Regions from separate parts of the Homo sapiens genome. Here regions 1, 3 and 4 are each linked to region 2. Evidence: fine-mapped expression QTL. A gene starts in region 2. Each other region holds a variant in brackets. All regions are shown on one strand. Distances are between the middles of the regions. Region 1 overlaps AJUBA (ajuba LIM protein). Region 2 holds the start of RBM23 (RNA binding motif protein 23). Region 3 overlaps OR6J1 (olfactory receptor family 6 subfamily J member 1). Region 4 holds the start of AP1G2 (adaptor related protein complex 1 subunit gamma 2).

Evidence for each region. PIP is the estimated chance that this variant, and not a neighbour inherited with it, causes the effect.
Region 1: its variant is fine-mapped to the expression of RBM23 in whole blood (INTERVAL, PIP above 0.99).
Region 3: its variant is fine-mapped to the expression of RBM23 in nucleus accumbens (GTEx, PIP above 0.99).
Region 4: its variant is fine-mapped to the expression of RBM23 in minor salivary gland (GTEx, PIP 0.98).

Annotation. Positions count from the first base shown.
Region 1 is chr14:22,968,603-22,973,746 of GRCh38, forward strand. AJUBA (ajuba LIM protein) reads right to left here. Exons shown (of 8, transcript NM_032876.6): 8 at 2,575-4,966. The coding sequence ends at 4,841. Among named protein-coding and RNA genes, the nearest start is that of AJUBA, 11 kb to the right of the region's middle. The variant T/A (reference allele first, on the strand shown) is at 1,910.
Region 2 is chr14:22,917,139-22,922,282 of GRCh38, forward strand. RBM23 (RNA binding motif protein 23) reads right to left here and starts at 2,011. Exons shown (of 14, transcript NM_001077351.2): 1 at 1,861-2,011. It overlaps PRMT5 (protein arginine methyltransferase 5), which reads right to left. Exons shown (of 17, transcript NM_006109.5): 16 at 5,038-5,102; 17 at 3,391-3,918. The coding sequence ends at 3,766. It overlaps PRMT5-AS1 (PRMT5 antisense RNA 1), which reads left to right and starts at 2,318. Exons shown (of 2, transcript NR_120600.1): 1 at 2,318-3,982. RefSeq lists enhancers at 63-827, 1,316-1,485, 1,556-1,665, 1,756-1,825 and a silencer at 2,086-2,385.
Region 3 is chr14:22,637,573-22,642,716 of GRCh38, forward strand. The region is part of intron 1 of OR6J1 (olfactory receptor family 6 subfamily J member 1); the gene reads right to left. Among named protein-coding and RNA genes, the nearest start is that of OR6J1, 4.2 kb to the right of the region's middle. The variant T/C (reference allele first, on the strand shown) is at 2,217.
Region 4 is chr14:23,563,888-23,569,031 of GRCh38, forward strand. AP1G2 (adaptor related protein complex 1 subunit gamma 2) reads right to left here and starts at 3,904. Exons shown (of 22, transcript NM_003917.5): 1 at 3,852-3,904; 2 at 3,224-3,432; 3 at 2,675-2,799; 4 at 2,391-2,532; 5 at 2,177-2,273; 6 at 1,929-2,005; 7 at 1,719-1,814; 8 at 1,232-1,312; 9 at 675-773; 10 at 446-501; 11 at 159-272. The coding sequence starts at 3,427. It overlaps JPH4 (junctophilin 4), which reads right to left. Exons shown (of 6, transcript NM_001146028.2): 6 at 4,151-5,144. It overlaps AP1G2-AS1 (AP1G2 antisense RNA 1), which reads left to right. Exons shown (of 4, transcript NR_110555.1): 2 at 840-953; 3 at 1,569-3,535; 4 at 3,802-4,189. RefSeq lists enhancers at 3,117-3,206, 3,237-3,476 and silencers at 3,957-4,006, 4,996-5,095. The variant C/T (reference allele first, on the strand shown) is at 1,983.

The DNA of each region.
Region 1 (5,144 bases), 51 kb after region 2:
TATTTTTTAGTAGAGACAGGGTTTCACCGTGTTAGCCAGGATGGTCTTGATCTTCTGACCTCATGATCCACCCACCTCGGTCTCCCAAAGTGCTGGGATTACAGGTGTGAGCCACTGCGCCCGGCTTTTTTTTTTTTTTTTCTTTGAGACGGAGTCTCGCTCTGTCGCCCAGGCTGGAGTGCAGTGGCATGATCTCGGCTCACCGCAAGCTTCACCTCCCAGGTTCACGCCATTCTCCTGCCTCAGCCTCCCGAGTAGCTGGGATTACAGGCTCCCACTACCACGCCTGACTAATTTTTTGTGTTTTTAGTAGAGATAGCGTTTCACCATGTTGGCCAGGCTGGTCTCAAACTCCTGACCTCAGGTGTTCTACCTGCCTCAGCCTCCCAAAGTGCTGGGATTACAGATGTGAGCCACCGCGCCCGGCCACCAGCTTTATTTTTGATAACCCATTCAGGCCTGTGGTGAACAGGGCTGGCCAGAGCAAAGACTGAAGTCTGCAGTCAAAGCCTAACCCTTGTCCTGTGACTGTCATCTATAAAGACAGACTTGGTCCATAATTCCTCCATTTTCCCCCTTTCTGCATCTCAGCACTAGTAGTTGTTGATTAAATCAGGTGGCAAGTTGGCCAAACAAGCTCCACCTTTTGATGTATATTTGGCAGCACCTCACGAATCTTTCATCATCAACTGTAAATACTAAAAAACTGTAAATACTAAACAGAAATATTGAGGAGGATTAGTCTCCCAGCAAATAGGAAGAAGGGAAGCTCTTGTGATGCAGGGTACACCTGGGAGCCTGCCAGTGATGGTGCTGGGGTGGCTAGGACTGCTCTTTTTTCATGGCCTGCCCTTATCAGCTGTTATCATTTATTTTTCCTCAGGAAGAAGTAGCCTCAGTGGCAAGAACAGAGTCTTGGGGAGCCCCAAGGCTAGGACAATCAGCACAGACCTAGAAAGGAATGAGTCGGATCAGGAACAGAAGAGGCCAAAATCAGAGTAAGAAACAAAGGGTCAGGAGCTGGGCACAGAAGCTCATGCTTGTAATCCCAGTGACTTAGGAGGCCAAAGTGGGAGATCACTTGAGGCCAGAAATTCAAGACCAGCCTGGGCAACATAGTGAGATGCTGTCTCTAAAAAAAAATTTTTTAAACTTAGCCAGTCATGGTTGTGCACACCTGTAGTCCCAGCTACTTGGGAGGCTGAGGCGGGAGAATCGCTTGAACCCGGGAGGCAGAGATTGCAGTGAGCCATAATTGTGCCACTGCACTCCAGCCTGGGTGACAGAGTGAGACTCCCAACTCTTTTTTTTTTTTTTTTTTTTTGAGATGGAGGCTTGCTCTGTTGCCGAGGCTGGAGTGCACTGGCATGATCTCAGCTCACTGCAACCTCTGCCTCTCGGGTTCACGCCATTCTCCTGCCTCAGCCTCCCGAGTAGCTGGGACTACAGGAGCCCACCACCACGCCTGGCTAATTTTTTGTACTTTTAGTAGAGACGGGGTTTCACCGTGTTAGCCAGGATGGTCTCAATCTCCTGACCTCGTGATCTGCCTGCCACGGCCTCCCAAAGTACTGGGATTACAGGTGTGAGCCACCGCACCTGGCCTTTTTTTTTCTTTTTGAGATGGAGTCTTGCTCTGTTGCCCAGGCTGGAGTGCAGTGGCGCGATGGCTAACTGCAATCTCCGCCTCCCGGGTTCAAGCGATTCTCCTGCCTCAGCCTCCCAAGTAGCTGGGACTACAGGTGCACCCCACCATGCCTGGCTAATTTTTTTATTGTTAGTAGAGACGAGGTTTCATCATGTTGGCCAGGATGGTCTTGATCTCCTGACCTCATGATCCTCCCACCTCAGCCTCCCAAAGTGCTGGGATTACAGGGGTGAGCCACTGTGCCTGGGCAAGACTCCCAAC[T/A]CTTAAAAAAAAAAAAAAAAAAAAGAGGCAGGGCTCAGTGGCTGACAACTGTAATCCCAGCACTTTGGGAGGCCAAGGCAGGCGGATTACCTGAGGTCAGGAGTTTGAGATCACCCTGGCCAACATGGCAAAACCCTGTCTCTACTAAAAATACAAAAATTAGCCAGGTGTGGTGGCGCCGGCCTATAATCCCAGCTACTCAGGAGGCTGAGGCAGGAGAATCACTTGAACCCAGGAGACGGAGGTTGCAGTGAGCTGAGATTGCACCATTGCACTTCAGCCTGGGCAAGAGAGCGAGATTCTGTCAAAAAAAAAAACCCTGAGAGCCGGGCACAGTGGCTCATGCCTGTAATCCCAGCACTTTGGGAGGCCGAGACAGGCAGATCACAAGGTCAGGAGATCGAGACCAGCCTGGCTAACACAGTGAAACCCCGTCTCTACTAAAAATACAAAAATTAGCCGGGTGTGGTGGCGGGCGCCTGTAGTCCCAGCTACTTGGGAGGCTGAGGCAGGAGAATGGTGTGAATCCGGGAGGCGGAGCTTGCAGTGAGCCGAGATAGCGCCACTGCACTCCAGCCTGGGCGACAGAGTGAGACTCTGTCTCAAAAAAAAAAAAAAAAAAAAAAATATCCCTGAGGGGATGGATGTAAAGTTACACAAGCTTGTCTGGATTTCCCATCATAGGGCCTTTGTATTCACTTATTTAATAATAGTTCAGAAGAAGCTATCTCAGCTGTACAAGAAGTAATTCAGTTTCAGAACATTTCTCACTCCAACAAGGTGCATTTTCCCCTCTGGCGCTCAGTTGTATAAATCTGACCTCTTTCCCTCTCACTCAGAGATCTCTTTTATGTATTTCCCAGGTTGGCTGGCATAGTCACCTTAGAATAGCCCCCAAATGTGGAAATTCTGTTGTCAGGAGTCATCATTTCCAGTAAGAAACTCACTGAGTGACAGAAAATGAAGACTAAAGATCAAAGATTACTAAATTAATTTGCCTAAAACCAATTCACCTAAAACCAATTAGTCTAAAATAAATATTTATCAAATCTGCAGCATTTCAAAAGGATTTAGCAGATTCACCCTTTTAGTTATTACTGTTGTCTGTATAACTTTTCATTGTAAGTCAACTGAATATGCCTCATGCCTATTCATTTGTTTAAGATATACTGGCCTTTTTAACAGTAGGAATGTAGAAGTTAGACCAAAGCATCAAAATCACATTGAACTCCATTATATTTTTCAAGGCATTTAATTTGTAAAGGAATATTGGATTAAGAAACAAAAAAATGATACACAAAATGTCTGTACCAATTGTATTTATTGCTAGAAACTTTAAACTTTTTAAAAAAGTTTTTGAATGGTAGATAACATAGAAAAAGACATCCATAAAGGTAGGAAGCAATCTCATCATTTACAAAGTGCTGCAAATTTGATAAATTTATGTTGCTGATAATAGCTCAGAAGTACTCTTGGATGAATAGATATAAATCCTTGAAATATCCAAAGCATGACAAAAAAGAATAGGACACCTAAATGGATATAAACACACCAAAATAGGAATTGAGCTTTTGGCAAATTAGTCATTAAGTCATTAACTTTAAGCAAACAAGTTTTCAGTAAATTGGTTTTAAGAGATCTAGCTTTAGGTGAACTAGTTTCAAGCAAACTGACTAGTATCAAATCAGTGTTTTGCTCCCTCCAGTTCCCCCCAACTCTAGTTTTGGGATTGTGATGGATGCAATCCGGGACCCCTCTGAGAGGTGGCAAGTGAGCTTCTACTAGGAAACCAAGTGTACAAGTGACCTGAGAAGAGAGTAAGAAAGAGTGAGAGAGAGACAGAGAGACAAGAGAGAGAGTGTGTGTGTGCATGAACACACCCACACATGCATACACTGGGCTATATGGCTCAGTGCACCTAAACTTGGGAATGTGGCTAAGCTGAAGCTTCCTAGACATCCCCCCAACAAGCTCCACACCCACAGAGATCTGCTCATTACCTCCCCCAGCCAAGGAGAAGAGCAACCACGTACAATCACCTACCTAGCCTCCCCAGACCCATGTAAGTTCCTGAGAAACAGGGAATACAGGCAGCAACCCCACTCAGAGCTGGTCCCCATTCTCAGACAGATAAGGAGCTCTCCTAGTCCTTAGAAGAAGGCCAAGAAATAACTCATTAATGAGGTCCAGAGTTTCTACCTCTTCATCCAGATATAGGTGCGGGACCCCATATCTGACACCATGTGTCACAAAAAGTGAGGAGCTTAAATTTGGTTGCCTAGCAGGAACTCACCACCCTAGACTTGCTACCTCTCAGGGACATCCCACACTGCATCAACCACAACCCCAAAACTCTGGGGTTTGGGGGAGCTGGAGGGAGAATTACACTTTGATTTGGTTCTAGTCAGTTTAGCTGAAACTAATTGATTTAAAGCTAGGTCCTCTACTCCTGGAATCCAGGACCAGAACATTGCGTGACTCATGCATAATCATACACTAGGCCAGACACAGTGGCTTACGCCTATAATCCCAGCACTTTGGGAGGCCAAGGTGGGAGGATCATTCGAGCCCAGGAGTTCAAGACTAGCCTGGGCAACATGGTGAGATCCCATCTCTAAAACAAACAAAATATATATACTGAAGATACAGAATCAGATGTTCAGAAAGTCCTGGAACCCTCCTGTGTGTGCCTAAGCTCAGACTGCACACATGGGAAAAAGGCCAGTCGCCCCCACCCTGGTAAATATAAGGTTTCTCTTCCACAATCCATTTGGAATATCATGATCTTTGGGTCTCCGGCCCTTGGGGTCCTCCCCAGAGGACTCTTCTGCCAGGCCTGCAGAGTGCATTCTTTGCCTTGGCTGGCCTCAGAGGGGCCCACTGGCCACAGCAGTTTGTCTGCAGGGTGACAGCAGCAGCAGTGATTGCAGCTCAGATATAGTTGGCAGGGGGTTGTCGGGCATTGAGCCGCTGCATGTGGCAACCATGGCAGAGCAAGTGCCCATCCAGAGGGAAACAGCAGCAGCCTTCCTCATCACTCAGCTGCATCCGGCAGTCCTAGGGAAGAAGGCACCTAGTTCACCTCAGCCTAGGCACCTTGGACACTGAGGGTATCTTAGGAGTCTGCCCTGCTCAACACCTGACTCCTAATAACTGGAAGAAAGGGATGGGGTGGGAAGGGAAGGATGGAAGGGATGGAAGAGCAATCTGAGAAAATACTAATACCTCAGCTGGA
Region 2 (5,144 bases):
ATTACAGACATGAGCCACCGAGCCCGGCCTAAAAAGAAAAGTTTTTTATACTCAAGCTGTTTCAGTCATTTTTGCTGCCAAGTCTACACAAATTTTCTGTTATGAACTATTTTTTACAATCTGCTTTTTCCCCTCCAAATGAAATGCTTGATTTCAAGAACTGCTCATTGTTGAGTGCTAATGCGGGGTAAGAACAACTTAACACACACACTAAAACTTACACTTAAGTTTACAAGCCTCTACAAATAAACCTCTACGTAAAAAGTTTTCACTCAGAAACAAATATATCCGTTTAAGCAAAGCCATATACAACACAATATTTTGAAACTTGCAATCTCACTGGGTTTAGTGTCTTTCTAGATGTGCTAAAAGCAATAAGGTAGCAAACACTATGCATTTTCAGGCTGGTAGTTTTTTCTTTTTTCTTCTTTTTTGTTTTTTTTTTGTATTTTTAGTAGAGACGGGGTTTCGCCGTGTTAGCCAGGATGGTCGCGATCTCCTGACCTCGTGATCCGCCCGCCTCGGCCACCCAAAGTGCTGGGATTACAGGCGTGAGCCACTGCACCCGGCCCAGGTTGGTAGTTTTCAAACGCTCTCTTCATGTCCCAACTTATGGGTCAAGGTCCACTCAATCTCATCCACATAGAGTATGTTTTCTTCCATCCTGCTCCAAAAACAGTATTAGAGACCCACAATCACGTCAGTTCCTAGACCTCGTCATAGCACAAGCCAACAGATAGACCCCACTGCTAAAGGAGCAGAGAGAACCACTGTCAGACCAATTCGGGAAGAATTCACGAAAAGCTGGAGCCCCAGGGGTGATGGTAGCGCCATCCCCAGGGTCTGATCACTTAGCTGGGCACAAACACCTACAAACTGAAGGCAGCTTAACAAAAGAGGAACAATGAGAACGATAAAAGCTACTTGAAGGACCACCCTCCCCATGTTGTGTAGCTTTAAAAAATGGTCCTATAGGCCGGGCGCGGTGGCTCACGCCTGTAATCCCAGCACTTTGGGAGGCCGAGGCGGGTGGATCACCTGAGGTCAGGAGTTCGAGGTCAGCCTGGCTAACATGGCAAAACCCCATCTCTATTAAAAATACAAAAATTAGCCGGGCGTTGTGGCAGGCGCCTGTAATCCCAGCTACTCGGGAGGCTGAGGCAGGGGAATCGCTAGAACCCGGGAGACAGGATGCAGTGAGCCGAGATCGCGCCACTCCACTCCAGCCTGGGTGACAAAGCGACACTCCGCCTTAAAAAAATAAAAAAAAAGAGGTCCTATAGGCAACCAACTGGCACAATCTCTGCGGGAGCCAGTGTCCCAGGGCTCAATCTTCATATGTGGCATCATAATACGCCTACTGGAATGAGTGCTTGAAAAAGTTAAATGGGAAAAGCCCATAAAGGTCAACATAGTGAACATGAATCTTCGACAGACTAGAGATTGAGGAAGAAAGCTCAATTCCCTTCTCTCTCTCTGAATGGTGGTGCGAGTGGCTGAAACTGATGATGCGTGTCCTCTCAGGCCGCGGAGGGTCGATGCTCCCTCTCCAGTGTGGGCGACCCTAAGTGTCACGGCTGCAGAGACCCGGAAAGAAAAATCACAGGATTCTAGAAACCGCATCTTTATCGGTGCAAGATACAGCCACGAGGGTGCCCAACTCTAAAATCGTGGCAGTGGGCTACATTTAAGTAGCTAACACTTCCAGGTCAAAACAAACAAAGGTTTTTTTAATGTTAAAAGTTCGCCTGAATCTCTTCGTGACGCCATTTTCTGCCCGTGACGTCAGGGGGGAGGCGCCGTGCAGCAACGTCACGCATTGGTGACGTCTGGTGGGGACCGGGTTTTGGGGTTTCTCACCAGTTCCGGGTCCCCGCAGGGGGGTCCCGGTTCTCTCCGTTCCTTTGAGTATGTTGTGGGGAGTGGAGCTCGGATAGTTCCTAGAGTCTAGGCAAGAAAAGCAGCACTGCAGGTACAGAGCCTCCTCTTCCCGCAAAATGGCGGCAGCTCTGCCGTCTTCCAGAACCTTCCCCAATCTGCGCATGCGCCAAGACTCCCCGGCTTTGGAAATAACCTCACTGGTTTCGCGGCAACCGTCCAAAGTACAGGTTCTCATTGGCTAAAGTCCTAAGTATGGGTGGAGCAAACTCAAATGCGTCTTAGCAACCACCGAGTTCCCATTGATTGGCTAACCTCAGAGACTCCAGAAAATGGAAGCGTCCTTTGGTAGCCGCCCATCACTCTCTCATTGGTTAAATGACTTGCGGAGGGCGGGGAAAACGGGACTGAAAACGGGAGTGAAGAAGCCACCAACCCCACTCCTGGTGCTCGCGTAGACTAGACCAGTGCGATGGGCGGAGCCAACGAGGAGGCACAATTTACATCCTTGGCCGTCCCTACTCGGATTTGCTGAAGGAGTCACGTCGGTCGTTAAGGTTAAGCTTTGTAGAGAACAGCGGCGTTTGTTTAACGTCCGGGGATGCTGAACTCGAAATCCCCGTTCTGAGCCGGCTACCTAAACAACCTTCCCGACCACCTCTCCTGACCTCGGTGCTTGGGACCAGGGAAAAGCAGATCTTGCCACAGACTTGTCTTGGCCCACACTCTGCCCTATCGTCATGGCCTGCTCCCACAGGTCATAACTTCCGTTCAAATCAGTACCCCCACATTTCCCACTGCAAGGGTAAATTTGAAAGTTTCTCAGGTGACTCCTTGGATGTAGCAGTACTGAGTCCTCTAACCGGAAAGAAGGAACTGATGTCCACCCTCACTTTCCAGGGGCCTCCAGGAGCCCCTAGACACTTCTGTGGTCTACTGTAGCTACCAAAAATGTAGCTGGTTATAACATGGGGAGAGCCAGAGTCGGAGGACCTGACTTCCAATTCTGACTTGGATACTAATATCACATCATTGTACCCATTTCAAACTCCCCCTCTGTAAAATGGAAAATTGGACTAGATGATCTCTTAGGACTTCAAACTGTAACCCTGTGGTTTTATTCAAAAAAAACAGGTAGCTTCTTGCTGGAGATTCCTGGATGGATTCCAGTCTTCCCAAGAGGTAACAAAGGAGAGGTAACCAGTTGCCCGTGCAGTAGCTCAAGAATACAGAAGAGAAACTGGCTTCACTCACTATTCCATCTTTTTCCAAGGTGGCAAACTCTATGCCTCCTCCCCAGAGAAAAGCCTAACTGTAGGTTCTAATGGACAAGAGCTCACTGTAGCTGGTCAGAAAGGCCTATATCCAGGACTACAATAGTCATTGCTCAGCTTCCTAAGTAGGGAATACAACTAGGCCCCTTTGGGTCTTGGATAGGCTAAGAGGACAGATCTGAACATGCCTGGGTCTAAGTGAGGTGTGGGAAAATAGTGGCAGGGGGCAGCATGGTCGTGCAGTAAAGGGCTATAACTTTATTTGTATTTCCTCTTACACAAAACCATCAAAACAAGAACAGAAAAAGGCTGAAAATCCGTTCAAACCCCATGTTCTCAGGGATATTCCAGGGAGTTCTTGAGGCTGAGTGCGTAGCTTCAAATCCAGCACTAATTCCTCACCCCCTGGCCTGAGGTCTTCATAGATTGGTGGCTTGAGCCCTGCAATTAATTATAATCCCTTGCCCACCTTGATGTAAGGCAGGAAAGCAGATTGAAATGCTCCTCTCTGATGGGCAAGGGGAATCACAGCCCATAGATGTACTGCACCTTCTGTACTACAGGAGCAGAACCTGAAGCTGCTTCCAAGGCTCTGGACACTTGGCACGCAGGGCTAGAGGCCAATGGTATATGAGCGGCCTGTGGGGTTATGAATAGCAGAACAGACTGGTGCTGTCACAGCCCACTCATACCACACCTTCTTGGAATTGCTGCATCGCCAGAAACGCACACAGATGGTTTGGCCTTCACGTACCGTTATGGGCTGCTGTAAGAAGAAAGACAGGAAGGTTCAGGGTGAAGCTATGAATTATACATGGCAATGTATTAAGGTAGGTGTGGAGATAAAATGATAAACATGACAAGACTGTCCCAACCCTCATGAAAGTTATTTGAAGCCTATCAGAACACAAATAATCAAAGGTGTGGTGAGAGCTGTGAACATGTACAGAGTCAGAAAAACACCTATGAAAGGGAACACTAACCTAGTCTAGGAGATCAGAGAAAGTTTATCTCACAATAAAAATGTTTAAAGAAGACCTAGAAGATAGGTTAACTGTGTGAAGAGACAAGCAAAGAACTCTACAGGCAAGAGAAAGGCATGAAAGCCTGAGGTAGGAAAGAAGATAGACAATTAGAACAAAAAGAAGGTCCATAAGGCTGAAGCAGTGTAAGCAAGGGGACAGTAGCTGCAAAGGCAAGCAAACACTCGATCACATCAAGTCTTACAAGCAATGTCCCAGATTTTGACTTTTATCCTAAAGACAATGGGAAGGCATTGAAGAGTTTTAAGCAAAAAAGAGAGATAAGATCAGGCCAGGCGCGGTGGCTCACGCCTGTAATCCCAGCACTTTGGGAGGCTGAGGTGGGCGGATCATGAGGTCAGGAGATCGAGACCATCCTGGCTAACACGGTAAAACCCCGTCTCTACTAAAAATACAAGAATTAGCCGGGTGTGGTGGCTGGCACCTGTAATCTCAGCCTCAGGGAGGCTGAGGCAGGAGAATGGCATGAACCCGGGAGGCGGAGCTTGCAGTGAGCCGAAATTGTGCCACTGCACTCCAGCCTGGGCGACAGAGTGAGACTCCGTCTCTTTAAAAAAAAAAAAAAAAAAAAGACAGCAAGAGAGATAAGATCAAATTTGAGTTTTTAAAAGATGACTCTTGCTCAAAGTAGAGAACAGACAGAAGAGTAGCCAGAGTAGATGCGGGAAAGCCAGGCAGAAGGCCACTCCAAATACTCCCAACACCTACCACTGGGATCCAAGAGCATATGAAATCAGGAGAACATGAGTCATAGTCAACTATCTTCCTGGGAGAAGGAAAGAAGCACAACACCAAAGGCAAAGGTTACTGCTTAACTAGAGAGTCTTAAAAGCAGTTCCTACCTTAATAGGGAAGAGGATGGGAAACCATGAGAACATCCCAGGAGAGTGAGTCTCTGGACGGATACCTGTGTGGACAAAATAATGAAAAAACAGAGGTCTCCATGGCT
Region 3 (5,144 bases), 280 kb before region 2:
CGGGAGGGAGGTGGGGGGGTCAGCCCCCCGCCTGGCCAGCCGCCCCATCCGGGAGGGAGGTGGGGGGGTCAGCCCCCCGCCCGGCCAGCTGCCCCGTCCGGGAGGGAGGTGGGGGGGGTCAGCCCCCCGCCCGACCAGCCGCCCCGTCCGGGAGGGAGGTGGGGGGATCAGCCCCCCGCCTGGCCAGCCGCCCCGTTCGGGAGGTGAGGGGCGCCTCTGCCCGGCCGCCCCTACTGGGAAGTGAGGAGCCCCTCTGCCCGGCCAGCCGCCCCGTCCGGGAGGGAGGCGGGGGGGGTGGGGTCGGCCAGCCGCCCTGTCCGGGAGGGAGGTGGGGGGGTCAGCCCCCGCCCGGCCGGCCGCCCCGTCCGGGAGGTGAGGGAGGCCTCTGCCCGGCCGCCCCTACTGGGAAGTGAGGAGCCCCTCTGCCTGGCCAGCCGCCCCGTCCGGGAGGATGGTGGGGGGGTCAGCCCCCCGCCTGGCCAGCCGCCCCATCCGGGAGGTGAGGGGCGCTTCTGCCCGGCCGCCCCTACTGGGAAGTGAGGAGCCCCTCTGCCCGGCCACGACCCCGTCTGGGAGGTGTGCCCAGCGGCTCATTGGGGATGGGCCATGATGACAATGGCGGTTTTGTGGAATAGAAAGGCGGGAAGGGTGGGGAAAAAATTGAGAAATCAGATGGTTGCCGGGTCTGTGTGGATAGAAGTAGACATGGGAGACTTTTCATTTTGTTCTGTACTAAGAAAAATTCCTCTGCCTTGGGATCCTGTTGATCTGTGACCTTATCCCCAACCCTGTGCTCTCTGAAACATGTGCTGTGTCCACTCAGGGTTAAATGGATTAAGGGCGGTGCAAGATGTGCTTTGTTAAACAGATGCTTGAAGGCAGCATGCTCGTTAAGAGTCATCACCACTCCCTAATCTTAAGTACCCAGGGACACAAACACTGCGGAAGGCCGCAGGGTCCTCTGCCTAGGAAAACCAGAGACCTTTGTTCACTTGTTTATCTGCTGACCTTCCCTCCACTATTGTCCTATGACCCTGCCAAATCCCCCTCTGCGAGAAACACCCAAGAATGATCAATAAAAAAAATAAAAATAAAAAAAAAATAAAAAAAATTAAGACACTAGCAAGATACCATTTTATACCCACTATATTGTCAAGAAGCAAAAATATGACAATAACAAGTGTTGACGAGGATGTGGAGACTTAAAAAATTTACACTGCTAGGTGAGGAGCCCCTCTGCCTGGCTGCCCAGTCTGGAAAGTGAGGAGCGTCTCCGCCCGGCCGCCATCCCATCTAGGAAGTGAGGAGCGCCTCTTCCCAGCCGCCATCACATCTAGGAAGTGAGGAGCGTCTCTGCCCGGCCGCCCATCGTCTGAGATGTGGGGAGCGCCTCTGCCCCGCCGCCCCATCTGGGATGTGAGGAGCGCCTCTGCCCGGCCGAGACCCCGTCTGGGAGGTGAGGAGCGTCTCTGCCCGGCCGCCCCGTCTGAGAAGTGAGGAGACCCTCTGCCTGGCAACCACCCCATCTGAGAAGTGAGGAGCCCCTCCGCCCGGCAGCTGCCCCGTCTGAGAAGTGAGGAGCCTCTCCGCCCGGCAGCCACCCCATCTGGGAAGTGAGGAGCGTCTCCGCCCGGCAGCCACCCCGTCCGGGAGGGAGGTGGTGGGGGGTCAGCCCCCCGCCAGGCCAGCCGCCCCGTCCGGGAGGTGAGGGGCGCCTCTGCCCGGCCGCCCCTACTGGGAAGTGAGGAGCCCCTCTGCCCGGCCAGCCACCCCGTCCGGGAGGGAGATGGGGGGGTCAGCCCCCCGCCCGGCCAGCCGCCCCGTCCGGGAGGTGAGGGGCGCCTCTGCCCGGCCGCCCCTACTGGGAAGTGAGGAGCCCCTCTGCCCGGCCACCACCCCGTCTGGGAGGTGTGCCCAACAGCTCATTGAGAACGGGTCAGGATGACAATGGCGGCTTTGTGGAATAGAAAGGCGGGAAAGGTGGGGAAAAGATTGAGAAATCGGATGGTTGCCGTGTCTGTGTAGAAGGAAGTAGACATGGGAGACTTTTCATTTTGTTCTGTACTAAGAAAAATTCCTCTGCCTTGGGATCCTGTTGATCTGTGACCTTACCCCCAACCCGGTGCTCTCTGAAACATGTGCTGTGTCCACTCAGGGTTAAATGGATTAAGGGCGGTGCAAGATGTGCTTTGTTAAACAGATGCTTGAAGGCAGCA[T/C]GCTCCTTAAGAGTCATCACCACTCCCTAATCTCAAGTAATCAGGGACACAAACACTGCGGAAGGCCGCAGGGTCCTCTGCCTAGGAAAACCAGAGACCTTTGTTCACTTGTTTATCTGCTGACCTTCCCTCCACTATTGTCCCATGACCCTGCCAAATCCTCCTCTGTGAGAAACACCCAAGAATTATCAATAAAAAAATAAATTTAAAAAAAAAAAAAATTTACACTGCTAGTGGGAGCATAAATTTATATAATTGCTTTGGAAAATAATTTGTCATTACCTTGTAAAGATGAACATTCACATACTCTGTGACCCAATAATTCTACTCCTAGGTAGAGAAACTTGCACATATGCCCCAGGAGACAAACAAGAATATGTATAGGGAAGGGGGAGAGGGGGAGGGAGGGAAAAGAGAGAGGGAGGGAGGGAGGGAGGGAGGGAAGGAAGGATGGAAGGAAGGAAGGAAGCAAGGAAGGAAGGAAGGAAGGAAGGAAGGAAAGGGGGAAGGGAGGGGAGGAGAGGGGAGGAGAGGAGAGGAGGGTAGAGGGGATGGGAGGAAAGGAGGAAGGAAGGGGGAAAAAAGAGAAGGAGGGAACAGTGTCCAAAGACAGGAGAATAAATCATGATATGCTCACAGAGTTGAATATACAATAAAGAAATGAATAAACTTCAGCTCAACCAACAGTGAGAATGTATTTTTTTTTTTTTTTTTTTTTTGGAGACAAAGTCTTACTCTGTCACCCAGGCTGGAGTGCAGTAGTGGTAGCATACAGCCCACTTCAGACTCAGCCTCCCTGGATCAAGTGATCCTCCCACCTCAGCCTCCCAAGAATCTGGGATCACAGGTGCATGCCACCATGCCCAGCTATTAGGTTGTTGCAAAAGTAATTGCGGTTTTGCCATTACTTTTCGTAGCTATGGGATCTCACTATGTTGCCCAGGCTGGTCTCAAACTCCTGGGCTCAAGCGATTCTCCTGCCTCTACTTCCCAAAGTGTTGGGATCATAGGCATGAGCCACCACACCCAGCCTCTTCTTGATATTTTCAGTATTTTTTTTTACAATGAACAAATATTCCTTTTATATAAAAGAAGTTAAGCTGGGCATGGTGGCTAACGCGTGTAATCCCAGCACTATGGAAGGCCGAGGTGGGAGGATGACTTAAGGTCAGGAGTTTGAGACTAGCCTGGGCAACATGGTGAAACTCTGCCTCTATGAAAAATACAAAAATTAGCCAGGCATGGTGCCATGCAGCTGTTGTCCCAGCTACTTGTGAAGCAAAGGTGGGAGAATCACCTGAGCCCAGGAGCTTCAGTGAGCCATGATCACACAGCACTGCACTCCAGCCTAGGTGACAGAGTGAGACTCTGAAGAAAGAAAGAGAGAGAGAGAGAAAGAGAGACAGAGAGGGAGAGAAAGATAAGAAAGAAAGAAAGAAAGAAAGAAAGAAAGAAAGAAAGAAAGAAAGAAAGAAAGAAAGGAAGGAAGGAAGAAAGAGAAGAAAGAGAGACAGAGAGGAAAGAGAGAGAGAGGAAGGAAGGAAGAAAGGAGGGAGGGAGGGAAGAAAGAAAGAAAGGGGGGAGAGAAGAAAGAAAGAGAGAGAGAGAGAAAGGAAGGATGGAAGGAAGGAAGAGAAAGAAAGAAAGAATGAAAGAGAGAGAAAGAAAGAAAGAAAGAAAAAGAAAGAAAGGAAGGAAGGAAGGAGGGAGGGAGGAAAGAAAGGAGGGAGGGAAGAAAGAAGGAAAGAAAGAAGGAAGGAAGAAATAAAGAAAAAGAAAAAAGAAAGAAGGAAAGAAAATTATTCTAAAAGGATATATATATATATACATAGTTGGATTGAAAATGTATATTAGCAAACACATATTGAGTGCCAACTATGTTGTGGGGCCTGCGATTGATGAAAGGTTGCAGAGATGGTAAAAAAAATTGCATGCCCTCGCACAGCTTTCAGTCTAAAAGAGATGTGAAGAAACCTGATTTCAGAAAAATCACAGAAACAGAGGAAAAATTAAGGGACGGCAAAGTTTTTTCATGGATATTTGTCCTGGGCCATTAGTCTGGAAAGCAAACCAACTACCAGGAAAACTGATAGATTCCAGGGACAAGGTCAAATAGGGCTTCTATACCTAGGAAGGACTCTGGATAGCAGAGGCCACGTAATTACCAGTGACTAAGAAGAATATGGATTGGACTAGGAAAAACAAGAATAATCTAGTAAAGGAAGAGGACTGCAGAAATCCCGAGGACTGAGTTGACCTCTGCCCATCTAAGCTGAGTCAGAACATCAGCCACTCCTGCACAGAACCTGTCCTCACGACCTGCCCTACCTTCCTATAGCCTTGGCACATGGACAGTCTCTCCAGACAACTCACCACATTTGCATTGCCAAGGATCTTTTCTTTCTTAACAGCTTTATTGATATATAACTCAAGTACCATACATTCCACCCATTTAAAATATACAATTCAATAGCTTTTAGTGTATTCACAAAACTGTGTGTCCATCACCACAATCAACTTAAGAATATATATATATATATATATATATATATATATATATATATATTTGAGATGGAGTCTCGCTCTGTCACCCAGGCTGGAGTGCAGTGGCACGAGCTCAGCTCACTGCAACCTCCACCTCCAGGGTTCAAGCGATTCTCCTGCCTCAGCCTCCTGAGTAAGCTGGGATTACAGGCGTGTGCCACCATGCCCAGCTAATTTTTGTATTTGTAGTAGAGATGAGGTTTCACCGTGTTGGTCAGGCTGGTCTCCAACTCCTGACCTCATGATCTTCCCGCCTTGACCTCCCAAAGTGCTGGGATTACAGGGACAAGCCACCATGCCTGGCAGATTTAAGGATATTTTAATGATCCCTCCTCCATTCCCTGGAAACTATTTTTCTACTTTCTGACTATGGATTTGCCTATT
Region 4 (5,144 bases), 650 kb after region 2:
GCCCAGGTCATCCTGGTCCATGCCTCAGGCCCTCTGCTTCCCCAGGGACCTGTCCCCCTTAGTCCCCTTACTCCAGCTGCTCTAAACTGGCTCGAGTCTTGGCCACAGGGCACTGGGAACCTCTGCCCTGCCCTCCTGTCCCCTCTATCACTGCTCACCGGCTGAGGGAGGCATCAGTTTCCCGTAGACATTCCACCACAGTGGGCCGATGCCGCTGCACAGCACTGTGATCAGACTGCACCAGTCGAAGCAGTGATGTCAGGGCTACATACCTGGTCAGGATGGGGGAGGTTCTATCATACCATGGCCATCAGCCCCCACTCCCCGTCCTGTCCTGGGTATAGGGATAAGATAAGAGAGAAATGGATCAGGAGGCTCTGGAGGAAGGAGGGCAGAGGGCCAGGGGATCAGTGGCACAGCCTAGGTAGACAGTTGGGACTATTACCTAATGTTCCTGTCACTGTTGAGTAGGAAGCGACCAAGAATGTTGACAGCTAGAACCTATGAGAGGCAGAAGTTGGGGTCAGTCGGAAAGGAGCAACCTGCTCAGCCATTGAGGACTGGGAACACATTGGCGCAAGATGATGGGGCTAGGAGGGAGAAACCAGCAAGCAGGACCTGTGTGGGTGAGGTGGTGGGCGGGGCCGTAGTGGGAGAGGCATAAGGGGTGATACCCGTAGGCCAGCTGCAGAGCGGATATCCATGATGGTGAGTACTGTCTCAAACAGGACCGCATTTCCGGCATTTCGGCTGGTGTCCGTGTTAGTGGCCACCTGAGTGGATGAGAGAGGAGATGTATCTGCTCAAGGCCCTCCTCAGGTCTCCTTTTTTTGATACAGGGTCTCACTCTGTCGCCCAAAGCTCACTGCAGCCTTGACCTCCCAGGCTCTGATGATCCTCCTGCCTCAGCCTCCTGAGTGGCTGGGACTACAGGCACATGCCAACAAGCCCAGGTAATCCTCAGGATTCTTGAAGGACTCCAACATGTTATCTGTCCATCCTTCAACCATCCAACAAAGTTCCCTGAGGCTCTACTATGTGCCAGGGCCAGCCTGGGCACTGGGGCAATAGCACTAAGACAGACTGTGTCCCTTCTTCATGGAGTTCACTGTCTAGAGGAGATGGAGAGGCAATTACACGGCCACTGCACAGTGACGAGTCATGTGAGGGGCACCCAGGGCTGATGGGGTCTCCAAGCAACACAGCTAACCAGTGCCCTCCCAGGCCCCACCTGGGCCAGCAAGTCATTCATGGTCTCACTGCTCTCCTCGTGGTTCCGGCCCAGGATCCGAAGCAGACGAAGTATCTGGACCTGAGGTTGGGTTGAAAATGGAAAGTTGGAGGGGTTCATAGGATAAGGAGTCGTGGGGCTGAGGAGAAAACTCCAACATGTGAGGGTCTGGCTCGCTCCCTAGAGCCTTCCCCCACCTCCTCACCTCCACAGGTCCCTTGGTCCTAGGAGGGGAACAGAGGTGTGTGAGGCCAGGGGAGTTTAGGACAGGCTTAAAAAAAAAATTGTTAACAAACTGTATTTTCCTGACTTTTAGGCATTCCCTCTCCCCTCACAGGTCCTGGGATGACCCGAGCAATCCTGTGCCTGCTACTCTGCTGCCCAGGACACTGAGAGAACCAGTGTTCTCTGGGAGGAAACCACTGGTCATGGTCTTACTGCTATGCCCTCTCTGATCCAGGGATACAGCAGTGAAAGGTCACCCCACCTGCAGGAAGGGGTCGCTGACTCCAGATATGCTGTGTTCTGTGGAGTATCCCATTGTCACCAGAGTCCGGAGGATGTGTACCAGCTGGGGTACCACCTGGAGGGAGGGCACAACTTTGGGCATTCGTTCTAATCCTCTCCAGCTAAAGCCCCATTCCTTCCCCACTGACCCTGTCTTCCAGGCCCAGGGCCTGCCCCTTCACCAGCCCACCTTTCGGAAGTGCCTGAGGGCTGCAGGGCTTCGTTCGCAGAGCTCCGTGATCAG[C/T]GTGATGGTGCCCAGCAGGATGCCTGGGGTCAGCGTCGGGGAAGTGAATGGTGGGGGCCAGGGGCAAGAGAGTCTATTGCGTGTGTGCCTGTGTGTGTGCACTACCCTTCTCCTGTGAGCTGGGGTTCCCATCCGATTTTCAATTCTTCTGTCCATAGACCTGAAGCAAAGGATGGGGGGCCCCACAGCCTTACCATGGTGACGCTCATGAAGCAGTTGGGCACAGGGTGGGAGGAAGACACTGGAGAGTTCAGGGACCTTCCGGATCATGTGCACTGCAGTCAGAATAGCCTGCAGAGGTCAGGGGCCTCAGACAGGGGTCAGAGGAGATGGACCCCTGCATCTACTACTATATAGCACGCAGCAGGCAGTGTGCAGGAGCACGTGCCAGGAGTCCCGCCATCTCACCTTCTTGCGCACGTAGGGACTGGGCTGCAGGAGCAGTTTCTCCACCTCTGGGGCCAGGTCTCGGCACATCTCAGCAGAGCCCATGGTGCTCAAAGTGCACAAGGCCAGGCCTTGTACTGGCTGAATCCCCTGGCTCAGGTCACTGCAGGGTTTGGGAGGACGGTCAGTCAAACCTCTGAGAAAATCAGTCCTTTTCAATACCCACAACAGGCAGTCCCCTGGGATTTCCAAGGTCCCTACTCTCCCATCTCCCTGATTCCAAGTGATTGCCAGAACCCTCTCACTTCTTGATGCTGTTGGTAATGAGCAGGTGGGCATCGTGCCTCTCATCCAATAGAAGCATGGCCCCCAGGTAGCCCACCCTCTTGTCTGTGAATCTGGAGGAGGCGATCAGTTTCAGGCACTCCATCTATAGTGAAGGGGGCAGACCAGGAAGAGGCAGGGGTGAAACCATAGACACTCACATCCCTGTTCCATCTTCCTCTTTAAAACCAGATTAACCTGTGGGGCATCATATCTCATCACTCTCCCTTCAACAAGAGGAGAAGCTTAGGAAATTCAGGCGTTAGTGGGTAGGAGGAACTAGGAGTTGAGGAGGATGGGAGCGGAGAGGAGGAGATGCCTGCCCTAAAGGAGGCTGGCCAGAGAATGAAGGGTTCAGGCCAGCTGATGACCAGTAGGGGTAGCAATGGGGAAAGAGGTTTGCAGTGCAGGCTGTGAAGACTCTGAAATTGTAGAATTTAAAAAACCAGGGCATAAACAGGTGAGAGAGTCTGGGACTCTGCCCCACTAGCCTTCATCAAGCTCAGGAGGGAGGTATTCCTGGCCAGTACCTGTCCAAAGTGGGCGGGGTAGCCCAACATGTGGACGTAGAGCAGTTTGGCCAGCTGCCGGTGCCTGTGCACTGGGTCCCCGTCGCGGAAGGAGGCCCGGATGTGGGCACACTCCTTTTGGATCACCTCCCGCTCCTGGGCCTGAGTCTTGGCCCCGCGAATCTCTTCGATGAGGTCCTGAAGCTTCAGCGAAGGCACCACCATCCTGACTGGCAGAGTCCGGGAGTGGAGAAACACTCTCTGGTCGGGCGTGCCTGGGCTTTCGGCCCAGGCCCGTCCTGTGTCAAGACCCTAAGAGCCCGGGTCCCACAGGTACCCTAAAATTGCGCCCGCATTTTACCTTTCCCGAAGTGGGTCTCCAAATTCCGCGCCCACCCCACCGCCCGAGAAGCCCACTACGCATGCGTCCGCACCCCACCGGCGCCCCTTCCTATTGAGCATGCGCGGGAGCCCCACCTATTTCTCTCTACCGTTTCCTCCCCCTACCTGGTACCCCATCCCTAGCTCAGCCATTGCTTTTTTTTCCACGACCCTCCGCTGTTTCTTCCGCGAGCTTCCTCCCCCGATTTCCATCTCAGGCAGCGGCAGCGGCAGCGACAGCCTGCCTACCCCAGGACTCCAGCCTCACCTGGCTTCTGCCTCAACTCCGCTCCTCTGCCCCCCAGCGCTTCCTGGTACGGGGCCGAGCAGGGGTTGGTGCTCCGTGCGGTCCTTCCCTCTCCCCGCCTCCACCACGGGACCCCGCCCTCCTGGGCCGACTGCAGAGCCTTCCTGAATCCTCTGACCTCGGGCCTCAGGCTTTAGCGGAGAGACAGCATGATAGGCCTGGAGTTCTTCAAGAGGCCTCCTCGCACATCCTTACCACCCGGAGAGCCTCAGTTTGGATTTGAAGCCATCGCACCCCAAAGGAGATGACAATCCCCCCCCTTTTTTGAACTTTTTTATTAATATATTTTTTTTGTTAAATTTCTTTGTATTTTTTTCCTGCAAGACTTGGTGTTGGCGGCACTGTTGTAGTTTAACTTCAATCCCAAATTCCATGAAATAGAAATCAGAAGTAAAGGTTGAGAGGGGAGGAAGGAGGGAGGCAAGCCAAGGAATAAACAAGAGTTTGACTAGAAAAAAAGAAGAGGGTATGTGTGGTGGGCATTCCTGGGCAAGGCCATTCCTTGAGGGAGGGGGTTGGCAGGCAGCTTGCCTCTGCCTCATGCAGGGGAGGGAGGAAAGATCCCCTGGGGACCCTGCAGTCCCCTCTTCCTAGGGCTTCCTGCTCCCAGGGGAAAAACTAATACCAGAGAGGGATCAGCCACAACCTCAAACAGGGCTCTCCACCCACCTGTCACCCGGGTTTGACTCCCACCTCTGCCCTGCCTGGGAAGCATGTGAGATCAGCTATCTTTGATCCCCTCCTTCTGTTGTTTTCCCATTTCACAAGATTCTGATGTAAAGGGGGAAGGGATATAACCCATTTTGGGACTACTAAACTTGTCACAGCTTCTGCTTCCATGTGAGCTCCTGTTATCTTGTCTGGTCCTATCCCCCAGAAGTGCCTCCTCCCACCACAACTCCCAGAGTTGGGATGTGGGGGCCTTGCTCAAGTGCCTCTAACCCTCTGCAGTAGAAATGTCTTCTTCAGGCCCCTTAGGAATTTAATCAAAGGCCACAAGTGAGTCCAGACCAACCAAATAAACTATTATGGGGGAGACAGAAGGGTGGGAGAAGTCAGTGGCAAAGTCTGGGCAGGGTGGACTTGACTGCATTGGATATTCTCTGTTCCTTTACACGTTGCTCTTGGCATGGCATGCCACCAGAGGGGGCTGGAGGAGGGGCTGGCCGATGAGGAGAAAAAGAGGGAAATGCTGGGGAGTTACTCTACTTTTCACTTCCCTTCTCTCCTTCAGGGAAGGATGGAATTGGGCAG